Linked DNA regions of Homo sapiens. The protein of the gene in region 2 purifies or fractionates together with the protein of the main gene of each other region. This does not show direct contact. Each region holds a gene or a part of one and is shown on either strand. Other genes may lie near its edges.

Evidence for each region.
Region 1: the proteins of REEP5 (region 2) and SCAMP4 purify together in Homo sapiens (affinity purification with mass spectrometry; 3 studies listed by BioGRID and IntAct, with this or other methods). This does not show direct contact.
Region 3: the proteins of REEP5 (region 2) and RETREG3 purify together in Homo sapiens (affinity purification with mass spectrometry; 4 studies listed by BioGRID and IntAct, with this or other methods). This does not show direct contact.

Annotation. Positions count from the first base shown.
Region 1 is NC_000019.10:1,915,378-1,922,411, reverse strand, and holds part of SCAMP4 (secretory carrier-associated membrane protein 4), read right to left. Parts: intron 4,719-7,034; coding exon 4,590-4,718; intron 4,286-4,589; coding exon 4,129-4,285; intron 3,524-4,128; coding exon 3,422-3,523; intron 1-3,421. UniProt on the Homo sapiens protein: Probably involved in membrane protein trafficking.
Region 2 is NC_000005.10:112,877,228-112,884,227, reverse strand, and holds part of REEP5 (receptor expression-enhancing protein 5), read left to right. Parts: intron 1-5,392; coding exon 5,393-5,442; 3' UTR 5,443-7,000. UniProt on the Homo sapiens protein: Plays an essential role in heart function and development by regulating the organization and function of the sarcoplasmic reticulum in cardiomyocytes.
Region 3 is NC_000017.11:42,579,002-42,585,395, reverse strand, and holds the end of RETREG3 (reticulophagy regulator 3), read left to right. Parts: intron 1-133; coding exon 134-271; intron 272-1,815; coding exon 1,816-1,898; intron 1,899-2,589; coding exon 2,590-2,722; intron 2,723-3,125; coding exon 3,126-3,583; 3' UTR 3,584-5,881; downstream 5,882-6,394. UniProt on the Homo sapiens protein: Endoplasmic reticulum (ER)-anchored autophagy regulator which exists in an inactive state under basal conditions but is activated following cellular stress.

The sequences.
Region 1 (7,034 bases), on a different chromosome or scaffold from region 2:
AATACAAAAATTAGCCAGGCATGAGGGCGCATGCCTGTAATCCCAGCTATCTGGGAGGCTGAAGCGGGAGGCTGCAGTGAGCCGAGATCGTGCCGTTGCTCTCCAGCCTGGGGGACAGAGCAAGATTCTGTCTCAAAATAAAAAAACGAGGGAAAGCACTGCTTAGATCAGCCACCAGTGGGACACTGGGAAGGCCAGCACGCCCTGGGTCCCTCTGTGCAGGACCAGCCTCTGGGCATTGCACCTGCCTTTGAGACCCAGGAGGCAGAAAACAGTCATTTTGAGATTTTTGTCTTAACAGGTGATGAAACCACAGGGTTTAAAATTCAGGGAACTTAAAGGCAGGCACGACGTACAGTCTCTCTCCTGCTGACTCCCCTCCCTGGTGCACAGGCAGCCCGCAGGACCCACACCCCCGGATGTGTCCGGGGAGCTTATGCACACACATGCACGGGGCGTGATATGCACGCACACGCGGTACCCCCCGCCGCGTCCCTGCAAGATGCTGGCCTGTCCTGTGTTCGCCTGCTTGGAGCCTCCACAGCATCACAGGCTGCATGGTCTTTGGGTCATTCCTTCCTCTTTTTTTTTTTCTGGAGAGATGGTTTCTCCCTATGTTGCCCAGGCCAGTCTGAACTCCTGGCCTCAAGCAGTGATTCTCCTGCTTTGGCCTCCCAAAGCGCTGGGATTACAGGCGTCAGCCACCATGCCTGGCCTCTTTTATTTTTTAAAAAAGTAAACCTCTGTTTGGATGTAATTTTAGATTTATGAAAAGCGGCAAAGGCATTTGAGGACTCCTGCCGCCGCCCCCGCAGCTTCCCACTGGCCAGCATCGCACGCCCCCGCATGCAAGTGTCAGGTCTAGGGAGGCACCCAGCACACTGTCAGTGGGCTGCATGCTCCGCTTAGAGGCTGCGGCGCCCGCTGATGTCCGATTCCTGGCGGGGCCCACCGGGGGCCCCTGCTGCACCGTGTCCTCAGTACCTGGCTGCCGCCATGTGGCCACCCTCACCATCTACACAGCTAGGCCCCGCTGGGGGTCATTTCTCTGGAGTTTCCAGTCCTCTGCCACCACAGATGCTGCCGTGGCTCATGGCCTCGGGCATGCGTCACCCCTGGGGAGGTGACGCTGGTGAAGCTGCCCGGGGCAGGGAGAGCGGGGCTGTCGCCTCTTGCCCCACAGCAGTGCACAGAGTGTGTGGGGAGGTGGCGCTGGTGAAGCCGCCCAGGACAGGGAGAGCGGGGCTGTCCCCTCTCGCCCCACAGCAGCGCACTGAGCGTGGGGCCTCACTAAGCCAACGGTGGACATGAAGTCGCTGTGCGCTGTGGTTTGATTTCTCTCATTACAAGGGGGGCCGGGCTCTCCTAAGACCCGCTGGGTTTCTTTCTCAAGAGCGTTCACCTTCTGTCCACCTCGGGCAGGGACCGCATGCTCAGCTTCTCCCGTGACCTGCGGGAGATGACCCAGGCTCCAATGAGAAGAGCCAAGTCGCTGCTGCCGCACGTGCACGAGGGCCGAGGGGGCAGGGAGGTCTCTGAGGGTCACATGTGGGCACTCACCTCATGCCGGGATCTCAGGACCACCCAACACGGGCACAGGCCTGTCCACCCAGCTCAGCCTGGGAGAGCTGGGGACGCACCGGGGAGGCGGCTCACAGGAGGCACTGGAGCCCAGGGAAGGGCCAGTGGGAGCCGAGCTGGCAGCTGGGAGCTCAGGAGGACTCGGAGGATGACGAGCAGTGCCTTGACCTGCAGCCACAGCCTCTGCAGGAGGGGGAAGCACCCCAAAGGCTGGCAGAGCTGGGAGTCCCAGGCACACGCTCACTATGACTCTAACTCAGATCCCTGGGGCAACGTCACTCAGGCTCTTGGGGTGGCAGGTGACAGACCAGCTTCAGCGGCACATCCGAGGGGTGCACAAACCACAGATCCCAGCCACCCTGGAGGGCCTGGCGCCAGGCGCAGGTGCAGGAGGGGAGAGGCCTGCAGATCGAGGGGCCCTGAAGGGAGAGGAGTCACCATCCCAGGAAACCTGGGACCTTATCTGGATTCTGATCTGTGCACTGGCGTGAGAGTACCGCAGTCTTGTGGGGCAGGAACCCCAGAACAGGAGCTTGCTAATGGGAGCCCAGGAAACCAAAGGCACCCACGGCTCCGTGAGCAGCGTCACCCGTGGGGAGCTCCCGCCGTGCCAAGGACAAGGGAGACACGTCGGGGACGTGGGCGAGAACAGTCACTCTCTGCAACTGAGAATTACAAATTATTCCAAAATAAAAAGCCTATTTAAAAAGCCACAAATTTGGCCAGGCACAGTGGCTCACGCCTGTAATCCCAGCACTTTGGGAGGCCGAGGCGGGTGGATCACGAGGTTAGGAGTTTCAGACCAGCCTGACCAACACATGGTGAAACCCCGTCTCTTACTAAAAATACAAAAATTTGCTGGGTGTGGGGGCACACACCTGTAGTCCCAGCTACTCGGGAGGCTGAGGCAGGAGAATCGCTTGAACCTGGGAGGTGAAGGTTGCAGTGAGCCAAGATCATGTCACTGCACCCCAGCCTGAGTGACAGAGAGCGACTCCATCTCAAAAAAAAATAATAATAGTTTAAAAAAAGGGCCGGGTGCAGTGGCTCACACCTGTAATCCTAGCACTTTGGGAGGCTGAGAAAGGCGGATTGCCTGAGCTCGGGAGTTCGATACCAGCCTGGGCAACACGGTGAAACCCCGTCTCTACTAAAATACAAAAGAAATTAGCCAGGCGTGGTGGCGGGCGCCTGTAGTCCCAGCTACTCGGGAGGCTGAGGCAGGAGAATTGCTTGAACCCAGGATGTGGAGGTTGCAGTGAGCTGAGATTGCACCACTGCGCCCCAGCCTGGGTGACAGAGCAAGACTCTGTCTCAAAAAAAAAAAAAAAAAAAAGAAAAGAAAAAAGGCAGAAATTTAAGACACCAACACAAACACTTCTGGGCACCTGGCAGCCTTAGAGAGTGACTGTGAGTTTCTCAGGTGTGGTAACAGCACCAGGTATGTGTGTTTTTACAGATGTACAGGTCTTCCTCCTGCAGCGATCCGTGCAGAAACATCAGCAGCCAGGAACTGGCTCCCAGACCCCGGGTCAGGGGTGTGATCAACACTCAGGAGACAAGCCTGGCTGGGCGCTGGCGAGGACGCAGGCACTGCCAGGGCGAGCTCGGACCCCTCCCTAGGAGAGTGCCTACAATCGCGAACCATGGCTGGGTGCTGGCGAGGACGCGGGCGCTGGCGAGGACGCGGGCGCTGCCAGGGTGAGCTCAGACCCCTCCCTAGGAGAGCGCGTACAATCCCGGACCAGCACGCTCCGGTGGCCGCCTGGCTTCCCAGCAGGCCCACAACCTGGCAGCTGAGCCACATCACAGCCACCACGCCCATCAGAGAGAGGCTTACCACGCGCCCCAGCCGGAGAAGCCAATCGCCTGGATGACGGTCAGGACAAACTGGGCTCCGAAGATGAAGAAAAACGCCATGAAATTAAAGGAGCTGTCGGCTCTGGGGAGGGACAGAAAACACGACGGTTACCACAGCCCTGGCTTCTCCCAGACGCGCCTAGAGAGGAACGGGCCAGTCAGAGATGGTGAGAGCGGAGGCTCTATTTTATTCCTTTTTTTTTTTTTTTGAGATGGAGTCTCACTCTGTCGCCCAGGCTGGAGAGCAGTGTCGAGATCTCGGCTCACTGCAACCTCTGCCTCCCGGGTTCAAGCGATTCTCTTGCCTCAGCCTCCTGAGTAGCTGGGATTATAGGCGCCCGCAACCACGCCTGGCTAATTTTTGTACCTATAGTAGAGACAGCGTTTCACCATGTTGGCCAGGCTGGTCTTGAACTCCTGACCTCAGGTGATCCGCCTGCCTCGGCCTCCCAAAGTGCTGGGATTATAGGCCTGAGCCACTGCACCCAGCCAAAATTACTAGAAAGCAAAACAAAACAGACAGTAGTTGGCTCTGGCTTGTGGGCCACAGTTTGCCACCCCCAGATGTGAACTGTCTTTCACACTGGGCAGAGAAAGGGACAGCTCCTCACAGCTGGGCTGGGACTGGGGTGCAGAGTGGGCCCTGGTTCCCTCTGGGTGCAGACGGCCCCCGGCAGCTCTGCTCACCGGAAGGCCTTGTAGACAGGCCGGAACCAGCACACGTAGCCGCAAGGCGTGAACAGGAGCAGCCACACGAAGGCCAGGCCGAAGTTGGTCCCCGAGCCTCCGCCGATCCACCAGGCCAGGCAGGCAATGAGGTTGACGCCGAGGGTGGCGCAGTAAACTGCGAAGAGAGAGGGAGGACGGATGAGCAGGCACGGGAGGGTGTGGCCGTGGGAAAGCATGGGCCCAGCAATGGGGCACCCGCTGTCCGCCTCCCCAGCCCAGTGACCCCATGTCGAGGATGAACTGTGCAAGCCAAGACACTGGGGCCTGGACACCAGCCTCGTTCACCGCAGGGACCACCAGGCCCAGGACGGCTTCAGTAGACGGTGGGCCCCCGACGGGCTGCCCCTGCCTGAATGCCACTCCCTCCCTCGGGGAGCCCTGCCTCCCGCTTCCCGCCTCCTGCCCCCAGGCGCACTCACACATCCACAGCCGGTAGATCCTCTTCACCAGGACCTGGTGCTCCACTGGGATCTCGTCGGAGAAGTTCTGGTAGAAGCAGGGCTTCACAGGGATGAACTTGGGCAGTGGCGGGAAGTTGTTCTCCTTTTCTGTAGGGACAGAGAACCCACGGACAGAACCAGACTTTGTCTCTTGAAGGAGGCCCCACCTCATCCCTTCGACCCAAGGCTGGGTTGCCTCTCATGGCAGAAGGGACTCTGCAGTTGGGATTGAGGGCAGGACGCTGAGACAGGAGAGGGTCCTCGTGGCAGCCTCACGAGAGGAGACGGGAGGGTGGGAGTCAGAGAGAAACGGGAAGAGGCTGCGCTGAGGCTGTGAAGGGGGAGAAAGGGGCCCTGAGTGGAGGGATGGGGGCGCCTCTAGACGCTGGGCAAGGCGGGAACCGGCCTACAGCTTGATGTTAGCGTTTCTGGTCTCCAGAACTGTCAGATAACTGATTTCACTGTTTTAAGGAACTAAGTTTATGACTCTTTTTTTGAGACGGAGTCTCGCGCTGTCTCCCAGGCTAGAGGGCAGTGGTGCGATCTCGGCTCACTGCAGCCTCTGCCTCCCAAGCTCAAGTGATTCTTCTGCCTCAGCCTCCCAAGTAGCTGGGATTACAGGCGCCCACCACCACACCCGGCTAATTTTTGGATTTTTCTTTTTAGTAGACACGAGGTTTCACCATGTTGGCCAGGCTGGTTTTGAACTCCTGACCTCAAATAATCCGCCCACCTCTGCCTCCCAAAGTGCTGGGATAACAGGCGTGAGCCACCGCGCCCGGCCGAAATTGTTTTTTAAATTTACGTGTCACCCTTCATGCAGGGCCCTGCTACTCTTCGTAGCCCTCCTCCATGTTTAGTGTGGGTGCGGCTGCAGCAGGCTGCATTTAGTATCATTCCCTCCGGCAGGCAGGGACGCCAACATGCAGGCTCAGCAGGCCGAGTCCGCACACTGCGGGGAGGCTGTGGCCTGGGGACGCTTCCGTTCCCCATGGCTGCTGTGAGAAACCACCACCGACTGGGAGGCTTAGAACAACAGAAACTGCCCAGGTGTGGGGGCTCCCACCTGTGATCTCAGCACTTTTGGAGGCTGAGGCAGGAGGGCTGCTGGAGCCCAGGAGTTCCAGATCAGCCTGGCAACCTAGCGAGACCCCAACTCTACAAAAACTACAAAAATTAGCCAAGCGTGGTGGTGCGTGCCTGTGGTCCCAGCTTCTCGGGAGGCTGAGGCAGGAGGATCGCTTGAACCCAGGAAGTTAAAGCTGCAGTGAGCTATGATCACACCACTGCACTCCAGCCTGGGAGAGACCCAGACCCTGTCTCAAAACAAAACAAAGAACACAACAAATATTTATCTGCTAACAGTCCTGGAGGCCAGAAATCTGAGATCAAGGTGTCTCAGGAACGCGCTCCCTCTGCAGGCTCCGGGGAAGGAGCCTTCCTGCCTCTCTCAAGCAGCTTCTGGGGGATCCCAGCGCCCTTGGCTCATGGCCGCATAGCTCTGGCCTCTGCCTCCATCTCCACGACGACTCCTCCTGTATCTCCATGTCTTTTTTTTTTTTTTGAGATCCAGTCTCACTCTGTCACCCAGGCTGGAGTGCAGTGGCGTGATCTCGGCTCACCACAACTCCGCCTCCCAGGTTCAAGCGATTCTCCTGCCTCAGCCTCCCAAGTAGCTGGGACTACAGGTGCTGTGCCACCATGCCCAGCTAATATTTTTAGTAGGGATGGGGTTTCACTATGCTGTCCAGGCTGGTCTCAAACTCCTGACCTCATCATCTGCCCACCTCGGCCTCCCAAAAGTGCTGGGATTACAGGCGTGAGCCACCACGCCCGGACCATCTCTTTTTTTTTTTTCTGAGACAGTCTCGCTCTGTCACCCAGGCTGGAGTGCAGTGGCCCGATCTCGCTCACTGCAAGCTCCGCCTCCCGGGTTCACACCATTCTCCTGCCTCAGCCTCTCGAGTAGCTGGGACTACAGGCACCCGCCACCACGCCCAGCTAATTTTTTGTATTTTTAGTAGAGACGGGGTTTCACCGTGTTAGCCAGGATGGTCTCGATCTCCTGACCTCGTGATCCACCCGCCTCGGCCTCCCAAAGTGCTGGGATTACAGGCGTGAGCCACCGTGCCCGGCCTCCATCTCTTCTTATAAACACAGCAGGCACTGGGATGAGAGCTCGCCCTGCTCCAGTACTTTATCTTAACTCCATCACGTCCGGAGTTAAGGCCATATTCCCAAATGAGGTCCCACTCACAGGTTCCAGGGATCAAGATGGGAACACAGCCTTTGGGGCACTCAGCGTGGCACTGGGAGCCCCCCAGGAGCTTCTGCTCAGCCAGCACTGCCTGAGGAAGTGTCCCTGGGCGCCTGCGAGGGCCAGATGGGGAGTCAGACAGCAAGAGGCCCTGTCCTCAGGGGCTT
Region 2 (7,000 bases):
AATGCCTTATAGGCCATTGTAAAGGTTTGGCTTCTACTCTATGTGAGATGTGGAGGTACTGGGGACTTTTAACCACAGAAGCAAAATGATCTGTCCTGTGTTTTAATAAGATGCCTGTGGCCACTGTATTAGGAACAGACTGAAGGGGTAAGGCAGGAAGTTGGGAGAACAGTTAAAAGGTTCTTGCAGTGATCTGGCTGGAGGTGATGATGGTGGCTTGGTTCCTTGTGTAGCAGTAGGGGGTAAGAAGTATCAGATTCTTGATATATTTCAAAGGTAGAAGTAATGGGATTTGCTTATGGATTGGCTTATGGATTGGGCATGGGTCAGAGGGGTTAAGGACAAGGACGAGCTTTTTAGCCTGAACAGATGGAAGGATAAAATTGCCACTGAGCTGGAGAAGACTGGGTAGAACAGGTTTTGTTGGGGTGGGAGGTTGTGGTGGGTGGGAGGATATGGAATTTAGTCCTGGACATTTGTTTGAGGTGTCTGTTTGTTAGATACCTACAAGGATTAGTCAAATAGCTAGTTGGATACAGGTGTCAAGAGTTCAAGAAACAGGTCTGGACTGGAGATATAAATTTGGGGGCCACAAGCTTATACATATTAAGCATGAGACTAGATGAGATCACGAAGGTAGTGTAGTTAGGAAACAGGAGGTCCAAAGACTGAACGCTGGGGAGTCTAAGGTTTAGAGACTGGAGAGATGAGAAGCAACTAGCAAAGCAGACTGATAAGGAGTGGCCAATTGAGGTAGCAAGAAAACCATGAGCGTGTGGTATCCCTGGGGCCAAGAACAGAAAGTTTTTCTTTCAGAGAGGAGAAGTGATCTGTCATGTTACATGCTGTCAACAGGTCAAGTAAGATAAGGACTGAGAACTGAGCAGATTTAGCAATGAGGAAGGTACTAGTGATTTTGATAACACAGATTTTGTGGAGTGATATCAAACTCCTGATTGCAATGGATTTGAGAGAATGAGAGAAAAGGGATGAGAGAATATAGATCTTTCTTTTGAGAAATTTCCTGCAAAGGAGAGCAGAAGAATGGGGCTATAACTGGAAGAAGGAATTATGGTCCTGAAATTTTAAAAGTTTTTTTCTTAAGGTAGGAGAAACAAAGCCTGTTTGAAAATTAATGGGAATAATTCAACAGAGCAAAAAATGATGATAGGAGTGAGAGGGTGAATTGTTGGAGCTCTGTCCTTGACCAGTGAAGGATCCAGTATACAGTAGAGGGATTGGTCGAAGAGCTGGAAGTTTATGGTAACAGCAGGGAAATCAGGTTTTATGGTATGCTGTGAGCACATGTGACTATGGGAGCCTACAGAAGTGACTTTCTAATTGTTTCATATTTCTCAGTAAAGTAGGAAGGCCAATTGAGAGAGGATGGGGAAGGAGACAATGGAAAGAGAAGGTATGAAATAGTTGCGAAGGAGAGGGACTGCTCATCTTTTTCTGTAAAGGGCCAGATAACAAATGTTTTAAATTTCGTGGGCTATCATGTCTCTGTTGCAGCTACTCTTCTCTGCCATTGTAGTGTGAAAACAGCCATGGACACTACATAAGCGAGTTTGGCTGCAGTGTGCTGGCCCCTCTAGGACAGTTGGAGAGTAAATGGACTGTCAGGCAGTGTTAAAGGCATGCTTGAGATTTGCGTTCATGAATTTATAGTGAAACCAGTTCTTGTTTATGTTTTTCTCCAGCCATACTCAGCTACATGGGTATAGCTACAGAGTAGGTGGAGAGTTGTGTCAAGGTTGTGATTTCCAGCAAGAACTATGAAGTGAGGGTGGGACTGTGGAGTGGTTAATGCTTGACAATGGAATTTAACCTGAGTAAGGTGGGAAGTGGTGGTGGAAGAACTCTGAATCAGGATAATAGCGGGAATACTCCATCATCATCTACAATGAGCAAAAAAGCAGGGTGGGGAGTGCACTACAAAGATAAAAGGTGATGGTGGCTGAGTGGGATGCTTGATACAAGATTATGGAGGGACTGCAGTATTGGTACTAACAGGGATCCTGGGAGTCAGTGCCATATGTAGGGTGGAATATAAGGGTTATTGGAGGGGAGGAACTAAGAGGTCAGGATATTAGAAGATCATCACATATGTCTACATGGATATTAAAATCATCAATAATTAAAATAGGAGTAGTAGGTCAGGTGCAGTGCTCACACCTGTAATCACAGCACTTCCAGAGGTCAAGGTGGGTGGATTGCTTGAGCTCAGGTGTTTGAGACCAGCCTGAGTAACATGGTGAAACCCAGTCTCTACAAAAAAAAAAAAACACAAAAATTAGCCAGATGTGGTGATGCGTACCAGTAGTCCCAGCTACTCAGGAGGCTGAGATGGGAGGATCACCTGAGCCTGGAGGTTGAGGCTGCAGTGAGCTGAGATGGCATCACTGCATTCCAGCCTGGGTGACAGAGTGAGACCCTGTCTCTAAATAAATAAATAATAGGAGTAGTGTTAGAAAGGAACATTAAGTTAGGAGCTAAAATCTTCAAGAACTAAGGCAAAGTAGCCCAAGAGTCAGGGATGACAGGGAAAGGGAAGGCTACTCAGTGATAGAATCTGATGACATGAGATTCTGAAAGTGGCAATGAAGAACAAAAACAACACCTACCAGATCCATTTGTACTAGGGTCATGAGAGGAAAGAAACAGCCACCACTTGAGAAAGCAGTGTCCTCAGGGCACAGCCAGCTTTCTCTAAGAGCAAGAAGGTAAAGGAAACATTCGGAGGAATGGATGAGGATATAGATTTTGCCAGTGATGGGTCTTGAGTTCCAGAGGGACTCAGATTTTAGAAATTGGAGAAAGGTTTTTGTGTTTTAGAGCTCTGTGGTAGTTAGACATGGGAGTTGTGAGGTTGCCTGACCATGGGGAAGTAAAATCCCAAGACAGTTCTCCAGCAGCACTGATGCCCCAGAAGTGGTATGTTCCCCATTTCTCCCTCACAGACCTCTCTTCTCTGGACTCCTATTTTTGGGCATACAAATCCAGTCTACTTGAATATGTTTTAGGTATTTTTTAACTTGTAGCCTTAACCTCCTCCCACTTTAGGATTGCCAGCTTTTTTTTTTTTTTTTTTTTTTTGAAACAGAGTCTCACTCTGTTGCCCAGGCTGGAGTGCAGTAGCATGATCTCAGCTCACTGCAGCCTCCACCTTCCAGGTTCAAGGGATTCTGCTGCCTCAGCCTCCCAAGTAGCTGTGATTACAGGTGTGGGCCACCACGCCCAGCTGATACTTGTATTTTTAGTAGAGACACCGTTATGCCATGTTGGCCAGGCTGGTTTCAAACTCCTGGCCTCAAGTGATCCACCCACCTCGGCCTCTCAAAATGCTGGGATTACAGGCATGAGCCACCATGCCCAGCCAGGATTACCAGCTTATTTTTAAGAGCTTTCTTTTCTTCTCCCTTCCCTTAGCCTAATCAGCAACCTGTGGTGATGTCATTTCTGTCTACTTCACCCACATTTCTTAGCCTCTTGGTTCTCTTAGATATCAATACTTAAAATCCAATCTTACTTTGTTATGACACATTCCTAAATAGGGGCAAGAGAATTAAAATAAGTTAGGAGGAATTTACATGCTGCCACATTTTAGACTTTTCTCAAAGCTTTTGGATTAACTAGGAATTTCTACAAAGGGTTAGTTAAGGGAAGGACTACATTTTCTCCTTTGCTGTGAACTTGGTTCAGTAATTTTAACTGAGCAAAGGGAGAGCAACTATCAGGCAGCTGGTGGACAAGAAGGGACTCCTTGGCTCTCATCACTAAGGCTCTGGCTCCATCAAGAACAGCTGCAGATTGTAAAATCTCACAGTGGGCCCTGGAGGCTTCTAGACAACCCCTTTCCCCTCCATCTTACACACTGTACTGGTTCTCATAGCACATTCCCTGCCACTTGGTAATTAGAAAGTGGAAGGCTTGGTCTCCTGCAGAAGTAAGAAAATATATTTTTCTTTTTTTTCTATAGAGATGGGCTCTCACTGTGTTTTGGCCAGGGTGATCTCAAACTCCTGGCTTCAAGGAATACTCCTACCTCAGCCTCTCAAAGCTCTGGGATTATAGACATGAGCCACCACACCTGGACAGAATGTTTTCTTGATGAATGTAGTGTCTTGTCACCAACTCAAAGACTTAGAGCAAACTCTTCTCATCATAGGAGAGAATGGTGGCACAATAAGAGTATAAATACAGATTTTAAAAACAATTTAGTATAACAACAATTTATATAGCATTCATGTTGCATTAGGTACTTTAACTAGAGATGGGCTTTTAAAATTTTTTTAAAATAGAGGTGGGGGGTGGGGGTCTCACCATTCATATTGGCCAGGCTGGTCTCAAATTCCTGGCTTCAAGCGATCTTCCCACCTCAGCCTCCCAAAGTGCTGCGATTACAGGCATGAGTCATTATGCCTGGCCGAATTTAAAGTATATGGAAGAGGCCGGGCATGGTGGCTTACGTCTGTAATCCCAGCACTTTGGGAGGCCAAGGCGGGCAGATCACGAGGTCAGGAAATTGAGACCATCCTGGCTAACACAGTGAAACCCCATCTCTACTAAAAATACAAAAAAAAATTAGCTGGGCGTGGTGGTGAGTGCATGTAGTCCCAGCTACTCGGGAGGCTGAGGCAGGAGAATGGCATGAACCCGGGAGGCAGAGCCTGTAGTGAGCCGAGATCGCGCCACTGCACTCCAGGCTGGGTGACAGAGCGAGACTCCGTCTCAAAAAATAAATAAGTAAATAAATAAAGTATATGAAAGCACATAGGTTATATGGAAATACTATGTATGCCATTCTATTTAAGGGCTTGAGCACTCACAGATTTTGGTATCTGTAGGGTTCCTGGAACTAATCTCCTCTCCCCCACCGCCCCCCCAGCCCCCCCCCCCAAACACATATATCAAGGGATGACTGTATTTCTAGTGCTGGGAATGAGGACTTCTCTGATTTGTCGCCATGGGATAAATATGATGACCTAGTTGTCATCAGATTGATAATATATTGATAAGTGAAATCTTACAGGCAAGCACACAGATACAAATAGAATTTGAACACTACTCTTAAGGAATCTCTGCTTCTTTCAATGCTTAAAGGAGAATAGAGGGCAGACAGTTTCGGTGACACTGTCACAACAAGGGGCTAGGCTAGATGACCTTCAAGTATTTTGCTCAAGTATTTAGGATTTGTGCTCTAAGAGGTACCTTCTCCATTTCCTGGAAACCCTCTTAGCCCAGACCACAAACCCCAACATGATCGCACCTGAACATGAGTCATCCAAGTTTTGTTATCTAGTAGCTACATTAGGCACAAAGCTTGCAAGCTTGCATTCCAAAGAAAGAGCTTTGATATATTTTTCTTTCCCTCCTAACAAACAAACAGCGAAGAAAGCTACCGTGAATTTACTGGGTGAAGAAAAGAAGAGCACCTAAACCAGACTGGATGGAAACTTCCTGCCCTCTCTGTACCTTCCTACTGGAGCTTGATGTTATATTAGGGACTGTGGTATAATTATTTTAATAATGTTGCCTTGGAAACATTTTTGAGATATTAAAGATTGGAATGTGTTGTAAGTTTCTTTGCTTACTTTTACTGTCTATATATATAGGGAGCACTTTAAACTTAATGCAGTGGGCAGTGTCCACGTTTTTGGAAAATGTATTTTGCCTCTGGGTAGGAAAAGATGTATGTTGCTATCCTGCAGGAAATATAAACTTAAAATAAAATTATATACCCCACAGGCTGTGTACTTTACTGGGCTCTCCCTGCACGCATTTTCTCTGTAGTTACATTTAGGATAATCTTTATGGTTCTACTTCCTGTAATGTACAATTTTATATAATTCTGAAATGTTTTTAATGTATTTGTGCACATGTACATATGGAAATGTTACTGTCTGACTACAACATGCATCATGCTCATGGGGAGGGAGCAGGGGAAGGTTGTATGTGTCATTTATAACTTCTGTACAGTAAGACCACCTGCCAAAAGCTGGAGGAACCATTGTGCTGGTGTGGTCTACTAAATAATACTTTAGGAAATACGTGATTAATATGCAAGTGAACAAAGTGAGAAATGAAATCGAATGGAGATTGGCCTGGTTGTTTCCGTAGTATATGGCATATGAATACCAGGATAGCTTTATAAAGCAGTTAGTTAGTTAGTTACTCACTCTAGTGATAAATCGGGAAATTTACACACACACACACACACACACACACACACACACACACACAGAGTAACCTGTAACTCTCAATTCCCTGAAAAACTAGTAATACTGTCTTATCTGCTATAAACTTTACATATTTGTCTATTGTCAAGATGCTACAATGGAAACCATTTCTGGTTTTATCTTCAAAGCGGAGAAACATGTTGATTTAGTCTTCTTTCCCAATCTTCTTTTTTAAACCAGTTTAAGGAACTTCTGAAGATTTGTCCACCTCTGATTACATGTATGTTCTTGTTTGTATCATTAGCAACAACATGCTAATGACGACACCTAGCTCTAAGAGCAATTCTGGGAGAATGAAAGGAAGTATAAAGTAACCCATAATCTGCTTGGCAATAGTTAAGTCAATCTATCTTCAGTTTTTCTCTGGCCTTTAAGGTCAAACACAAGAGGCTTCCCTAGTTTACAAGTCAGAGTCACTTGTAGTCCATTTAAATGCCCTCATCCGTATTCTTTGTGTTGATAAGCTGCACATGACTACATAGTAAGTACAGAACAGTAAAGTTAAAACGGATGTCTCCATTGATCTGCCAAATCGTTATAGAGAGCAATTTGTCTGGACTAGAAAATCTGAGTTTTACACCATACTGTTAAGAGTCCTTTTGAATTAAACTCGACTAAAACAAGTGTATAACTAAACTAACAAGATTAAATATCCAGCCAGTACAGTATTTTTTAAGGCAAATAAAGATGATTAGCTCACCTTGAGATAACAATCAGGTAAGATCATAACAATGTCTCATGATGTAAAAAATATTAAA
Region 3 (6,394 bases), on a different chromosome or scaffold from region 2:
TGACTGGCAGACTTGGGCAGATCTGTTCCACACTTTGTGTCCAAGCCCTAAGGACCAATAGCAGCGCTACAGTTGGGAATGTTTTTTGCAGCCCCTTCTCCATTTTGTCACTGTTTCCCATGCCTCCTCACAGTTGTCACTGTCATGATGTGGCCCCTTGCTGTGTACCACCGACTGTGGGATCGAGCATATGTGCGGCTGAAGCCAGCTCTGCAGCGGCTAGACTTCAGTGTCCGTGGCTACATGATGTCCAAGCAGAGAGAGAGACAATGTAAGTGTCATGGTGTCATTCTTTCCACTTACGCAATTTGGGGCGAAAAGGAGAAGCCCATAGGTCTGACATACTGGGTGGGTCCTCAAAAGTGGAAGTCGGGGGTAGTTGGTGGGGGTGAGGATTGATAGGTAAAAATGATATTCTGTTCTAGGGAAACCTGTGCAGGCTTGCCAGTTTTTATCATTTGTAATCCTAGGCTCCCGTTTTAAACCTATCTGATAAAAGCTCTTTCAAGTTGAATAAAAGCTAGACAGTGAAGATAAATTCCTAGTATTTGTGGTTTGTTTTTTTTTTTTTTTTTTTTTTGAGACAGGGTCTCATTCTGTTTCCCAGGCTGGAGTGCAGTGGCATGATCATGGCTCACTGCACCCTTGACCTCCCAGGCTCAAGTGATCCTTCTACTCAGCCCCGCCAAACCCTTCAGTAGCTGGGACTACAGGCATGTGTCACCACATCTATCTGATTTTTAAATTTTTTTGTAGAGATGGGGTCTCATGTTGCCCAGGCTGATCCTGAACTCCTGGGCTCAAGCGATCCTCCTGCCTTGGCGTTCCAAAGTGTTGGGATTACAGGTGTGAGCCACCGTGCTGAGCCCAGAGCAGATCCTTTCAACTCCTAAGCCTGGTCTCTTCACTAGTAAAAGCTGCCTCCCAAAGGTGATTAAAAACTGCTGCCTCAGAGGTTGTAAGTGTACTAGCCTGAGATCCATGCAACACAATGATGGTAGTACAAACTTTTCCCTCCCTTGTGTGGTCTTGTCAGGTTTTGTGTTTTATGGAGGCCTGGCCTTCAAAGAGCCCTGCACTTGGTCACCAAGGCCCAAGTCCCCTTGGGGCAGCCAGTTGAATAATACCAGTCCTCAAAAGTCTGATTTAACAAGGTGTGCATCTCCTTTTGCCCTCTCTTTGATCATGTCCACTTAACACCTTGACATTAGGTCTGCCTTTAGCCATCCAGAGAGTTGTTGACAAAGCCTGGTATTTGATCATCTGACCAGAATAGAAATGTGTGCCAGGCCGGGCGCAGTGGCTCACACTTGTAATCCCAGCACTTTTGGAGGCTGAGGTGGGCGGATCACCTTAGGTCAGGAGTTCGAGACCAGCTTGACCAATATGATGAAACCCCGTCTCTACTAAAAATACAAATATTAGCCAGGTGTGATGGTGAGCACCTGTAATCTCAGCTACTCAGGAGGCTGAGACAGGAGTATTGCTTGAATCCAAGAGGCAGAGGTTGCAGTGAGCCGAGATCGCGCCATTGCACTCCAGCCTGGGCAACAAGAACAAAACTCCATCTCAAAAGAAAAAAGAAATATGTAGGGTCTGGTGGAGAGGATGTTGGAAGCTGAGATATTTTCTCCAGTGTTTTCAACTCACCTTGCATTTAGGCTCAGCAGCTCAGCCTTCTGTTATTATTATGTAGGCTTAGAGCCAGATTCAGAGAGGCTCTTTGTTTTGTGTTCTGATTTTATGTCTTTAAAGTCCAAAGGGGATTTTACGCTGGGAGAAGGTATCAAGCAAGACTTTGTGCTCTTCCCACAGTACGCCGCAGAGCTCTCCACCCAGAACGAGCCATGGACAACCACAGTGACAGCGAAGAGGAGCTTGCTGCCTTCTGTCCTCAGGTATCTTGAGTGTGGGAGCTGCTTCACTGTCCAGTTTTCTTTAGCTACCTTTTAACCATCCGACAGCTCACATTTAGGCCATAACCAGGTTTGAGGCCTTAGACTCCCCTTGTTCCCAAGACAAGGAGAGAAGTGAGACTTTGTTCCTAGATCTCAATTTTTTTCTTTATCATATCATTCCTGTAATCAACCTAGGTCTCAATTAGAGCCTGATGCCCAGCACCGCTCTTCCGTATCTCTTTTTACCCTACCATTATGGAAGAACTTCTGGAGCTAGTATGATCATCTTTTAAACAGCCCAGTTCACCCTTGGGTCTGTGCAGTATGTGTATCCTCCTACCACTTTGAAAAATTATCTCTGGATCAATTATTTGCCTTAAAGTAAGTGGGTAATTGACTCCCCCAAGACTGCTTTTCTTCCTGTGCTTAAGAGGTTATGAATGAGTGTTTTCTTTGGGAGAGCAGCCTAAAAGGGGTCAAGATTTTTTTTGTTGTTGTTACTTTCACATGTATTGATTAAAAAAAAAATAAAGGGGAGAGGGAGTTTTCAACGGGAAGTTACCATCTATCCCTGGTTACATTGATTTGATGGCCTTCGGATAACTAATGCTAGCTGATTAGTAAAGCTGTACCTGGTGACTACACCTGGTTCCTGATGGCATTATCTCACATTTGTTGGTCTTTTCCTAAGCTGGACGATTCTACTGTTGCCAGGGAATTGGCCATCACAGACTCTGAGCACTCAGACGCTGAAGTCTCCTGTACAGACAATGGCACATTCAATCTTTCAAGGGGCCAAACACCTCTAACGGAAGGCTCTGAAGGTGAGGGGAGCCTTTGACCTCAGTTGATAATGGCTCTGACTGTTGCCTCTTAGCTTCCCTGAACAGAGGGGATACTGGTGCTTGCCCCTCTCCTGTTTTCTGAGCTATGGATCAGGCGGCAGAGCAGCCTGAGTGCTGTGGCTACAGCCAGGATGGCACTGCTGCCCTTCTTGAAGACTTTAGTCCCTTAGTAGCCTCAGGCACTAGCCTCACAGGGGACATAGAAGAGAGGGGGAATTGTGTAGAGATCACAGCCACCTATAAGTGGAGGGGAAAGGTATACCAGTCCCATGGGTTTATTTCGCCCTGAGAAAGCCAGGGTGGGAAAAATCTGGTCATGTGGGGCTGGGGCACAGGAGGGCCAGGTAGGTGCCATGACTCAGACACTTCTGTATTCCACCAGACCTAGATGGTCACAGTGATCCAGAGGAATCCTTTGCCAGAGACCTTCCAGACTTCCCTTCCATTAATATGGATCCTGCTGGCCTGGATGATGAGGACGACACTAGCATTGGCATGCCCAGCTTGATGTACCGTTCTCCGCCAGGGGCTGAGGAGCCCCAGGCCCCACCTGCCAGCCGGGACGAGGCTGCGCTGCCGGAGCTCCTGCTTGGTGCTCTTCCTGTAGGATCCAACCTCACCAGCAACCTTGCCAGCCTGGTCTCCCAGGGTATGATTCAGCTGGCCTTGTCAGGGGCCTCCCAACCAGGCCCTTCTGGAGCACCTGCCCAGAGAGCAACGAGAGGCTTCCTCCGGTCCCCCAGTTCAGACCTGGACACTGATGCTGAGGGGGATGACTTTGAACTTCTGGACCAGTCGGAGCTGAGTCAGCTGGACCCTGCCAGTTCTAGGAGCCACTGAGGCAGAGACTCCTTTTGGGAGTCACTGTGGTTTAGGTTTTTTTCTCCCCATCCCACTTAAGGTGATGGGGCAAGGGAAGAACTCAGCTCCCCTCCCCTGAATTATATTTGTATGCTGGGTGGCCTGGCTGATGCTCAGAGGCCTCCTTAGAGAGGACACTCACTCCCCTCCCACCAGCTGGATGCCCATTTCTGAGCTCAGTCACTGAAGTGAGAGTGTGCTCCCCCAAGGGAGGCTTCTCTCCATCAGGATGGTACTTTGGGGGAACAAAATAGTCAGGGATATTGGTTCCCCTTTGAGGAGGTGCTGCTGTTTGCTTTTAGGTATGAGTGCTCAGGGGCCCTCACTGAAAGAGCCCATGCCTGCCTTCCTCCTTTCATCGCCTCTCTAGAGCCCCCAAAGTCAGGCAGCAGCTGGAGTAGTTACATTGTCATCATCTTTTTTTTTGAGACAGTTTCGCTCTGTTGCCCAGGCTGGAGTGCAGTGGTGTGATCTTGGCTTTCTGCAACGTCTGCCTTCCAGGTTGAAGAGGTTCTCCTGCCTCAGCCTCCTTAGTAGTGGGATTACAGGTGCCCGCTACTATGCCCGGCTAATTTTTCTTTTGGTATTTTTAGTAGAAATGGGGTTTCACCATGTTGGCCAGGCTGGTCTCAAACTCCTGACCTCAAGTGAGCTGACTGCCTTGGCCTCCCAGAGTGCTGGGATTAGTCGTCATCTTTTGTTAAACCAGGATTTGATTTTTTTCTTTTCTTTTCTTTTCTTTTTTTTTTTTTTGAGACAGAGTCTCTCTCTGTTGCCCAGGCTGGAGTGCAGTGGCACAATCTCGGCTCACTGCAGCCTCCGCCTGCCGGGTCAAGCGATTCTCCTACCTCAGCCTCCTCAGTAGCTGAGATTACAGGCATGCACCACCATGCCCGGCTAATTTTTTTGTGTTTTTAGTAGAGATGGGGTTTCACCGTGCTGGCCAGGCTGGTCTAGAACTCCTGACTGCAAATGATCAGCCCGCCTCAGCCACCCAAAGTGTTGGGATTACAGGTGTGAGCCACTGTGCCCAGCGTGATTTTTTTTTTTTTTTAAAGCAAACTTGTCCTTTGGTTTTGCAGAACAGGCCTGCTCCCTCTCATCTAGCCCATCATTTCTTGGGGCCTGAACCCCAGTGGTCCAAAGTATTGCTTGTGAAATTTAAAAAATGTGAATATGATGTGGGGATGGGCCTCTTCTACATTACCTTGGCCCAGGGGGATCAGCTGGCTGGGAGGATTAGTGAGCACCTCTGTATTTTGAGGTCTGAGTCTTCTGGAGCTGTGTAGTTAATCTTCGGTTTCTGATAACCCCTGGGTCCATCTGGCCATCAGCCTCAGCAGTGAGCAAAGCAATACCATACTCATTTCTATGTTCCTGTTCCTTCCTCTGCTCCTCCTTTGGAGAAGCAATAATTCATGGGGGATGATACAGTAGCACTTTACAAATGGCTCCATGTCATTCATCCCAGGGGCCATAATCTCTTGCACCACCTATTCTTACTTCCTGTTCAGCTCCTTTACAGCTTTTATTTTCAACTGCTTCCCAACTTGGTGGGGCCTCCTTTAAGGATGAGCCAATAGTAAGAATGTGGCTGTAATCAGCAGAGACCCCTCTGAGGGGTATCTGTTCTGCAGCCCCTAGTGAAATCATGTGATGTGAGACAGAAACCTAAACATGGTACTTGATTCTAAACCTGTGCCAGTCTATAGCCTCTGCCTCCCCAAGCAGAGCTCAAGCCAAACGCTTCTGTCCTCTTTCCTTCTGCATTAACCCTTTGCTGATCCTCAGGGGCCACTCCCCCAACACCCCTGTACTTGGGTGAGGGATGTTGGACAGAGCCTGTTTTCATGTACTGCAGGTGGGGGTGTGCTGACATGTTTGCTCTTGGTTGATGGAGAAGGTACAGAGGCCAGGGAGTGAAAATGGTTGACAGAAGAGGGAAGAGTTAGGTGTCTCATAGTCACTCATAGTGGGGTGGTCAGGGGTAATGGCATCTCCCCACTTTAGGCTTCTCAAACAGACTTTTGACACCTCTCAAGTTCAGAGCTCTGATGTGGAAAGACAGGAGGTGTGGGGAAGGAGGGGGATTTCGTGTGTTTGCATGAGTGTGCGCTTCAGGCCTTGGGAGTTGGCAAGAGGGAGGGAAGGAAGGAGAGCAAAATCTTCGGAAGGTGTTTCTTGTACCTGAGGGATCCTGCCCTGAATCTCCATAGTCTCCACTGTGAACTGAGGAGGGGAGGGGTGTGCTGGGGAATAAATCTTGTATGAGAACAATCTTTAAGAGACTGATGCTGAATGGTGTCCTACCCTTGATAGGTCTTCTCTTGTAAATCTGAGTTCTGATTAATTTGAAGTGATAGCCTTAAAAGAGGAAGCCCAGGTATGAGGGACCCACCAGCCCACCCCTATTTTTACTTCGTGATGGCCAGAACATCACCATAGTATGAGGCTACTTTCCTTCTTGTGAGAGCCCCACCATCAGTATAACTGGCACTCTTGGCTAGTATTTAGCCTGTATTTCCTTCATTTCTAATTTCTTTTTTTTTCCTGAGACGGAGTCTTGGTCTGTCGCCCAGGCTGGAGTGCAGTGGTGCGATCTCTCACTGCAAGCTCCGCCTCCCGGGTTCACGCCATTCTCCTGCCTCAGCCTCCTGAGTAGCTTGGACTACAGGCGCCCACCAGCACGCCTGGCTAATTTTTTGTATTTTTAGTAGAGATGGGGTTTCACAGTGTTAGCCAGGATGGTCTCGATCTCCTGACCTCGTGATCCGCCCGCCCTGGCCTCCC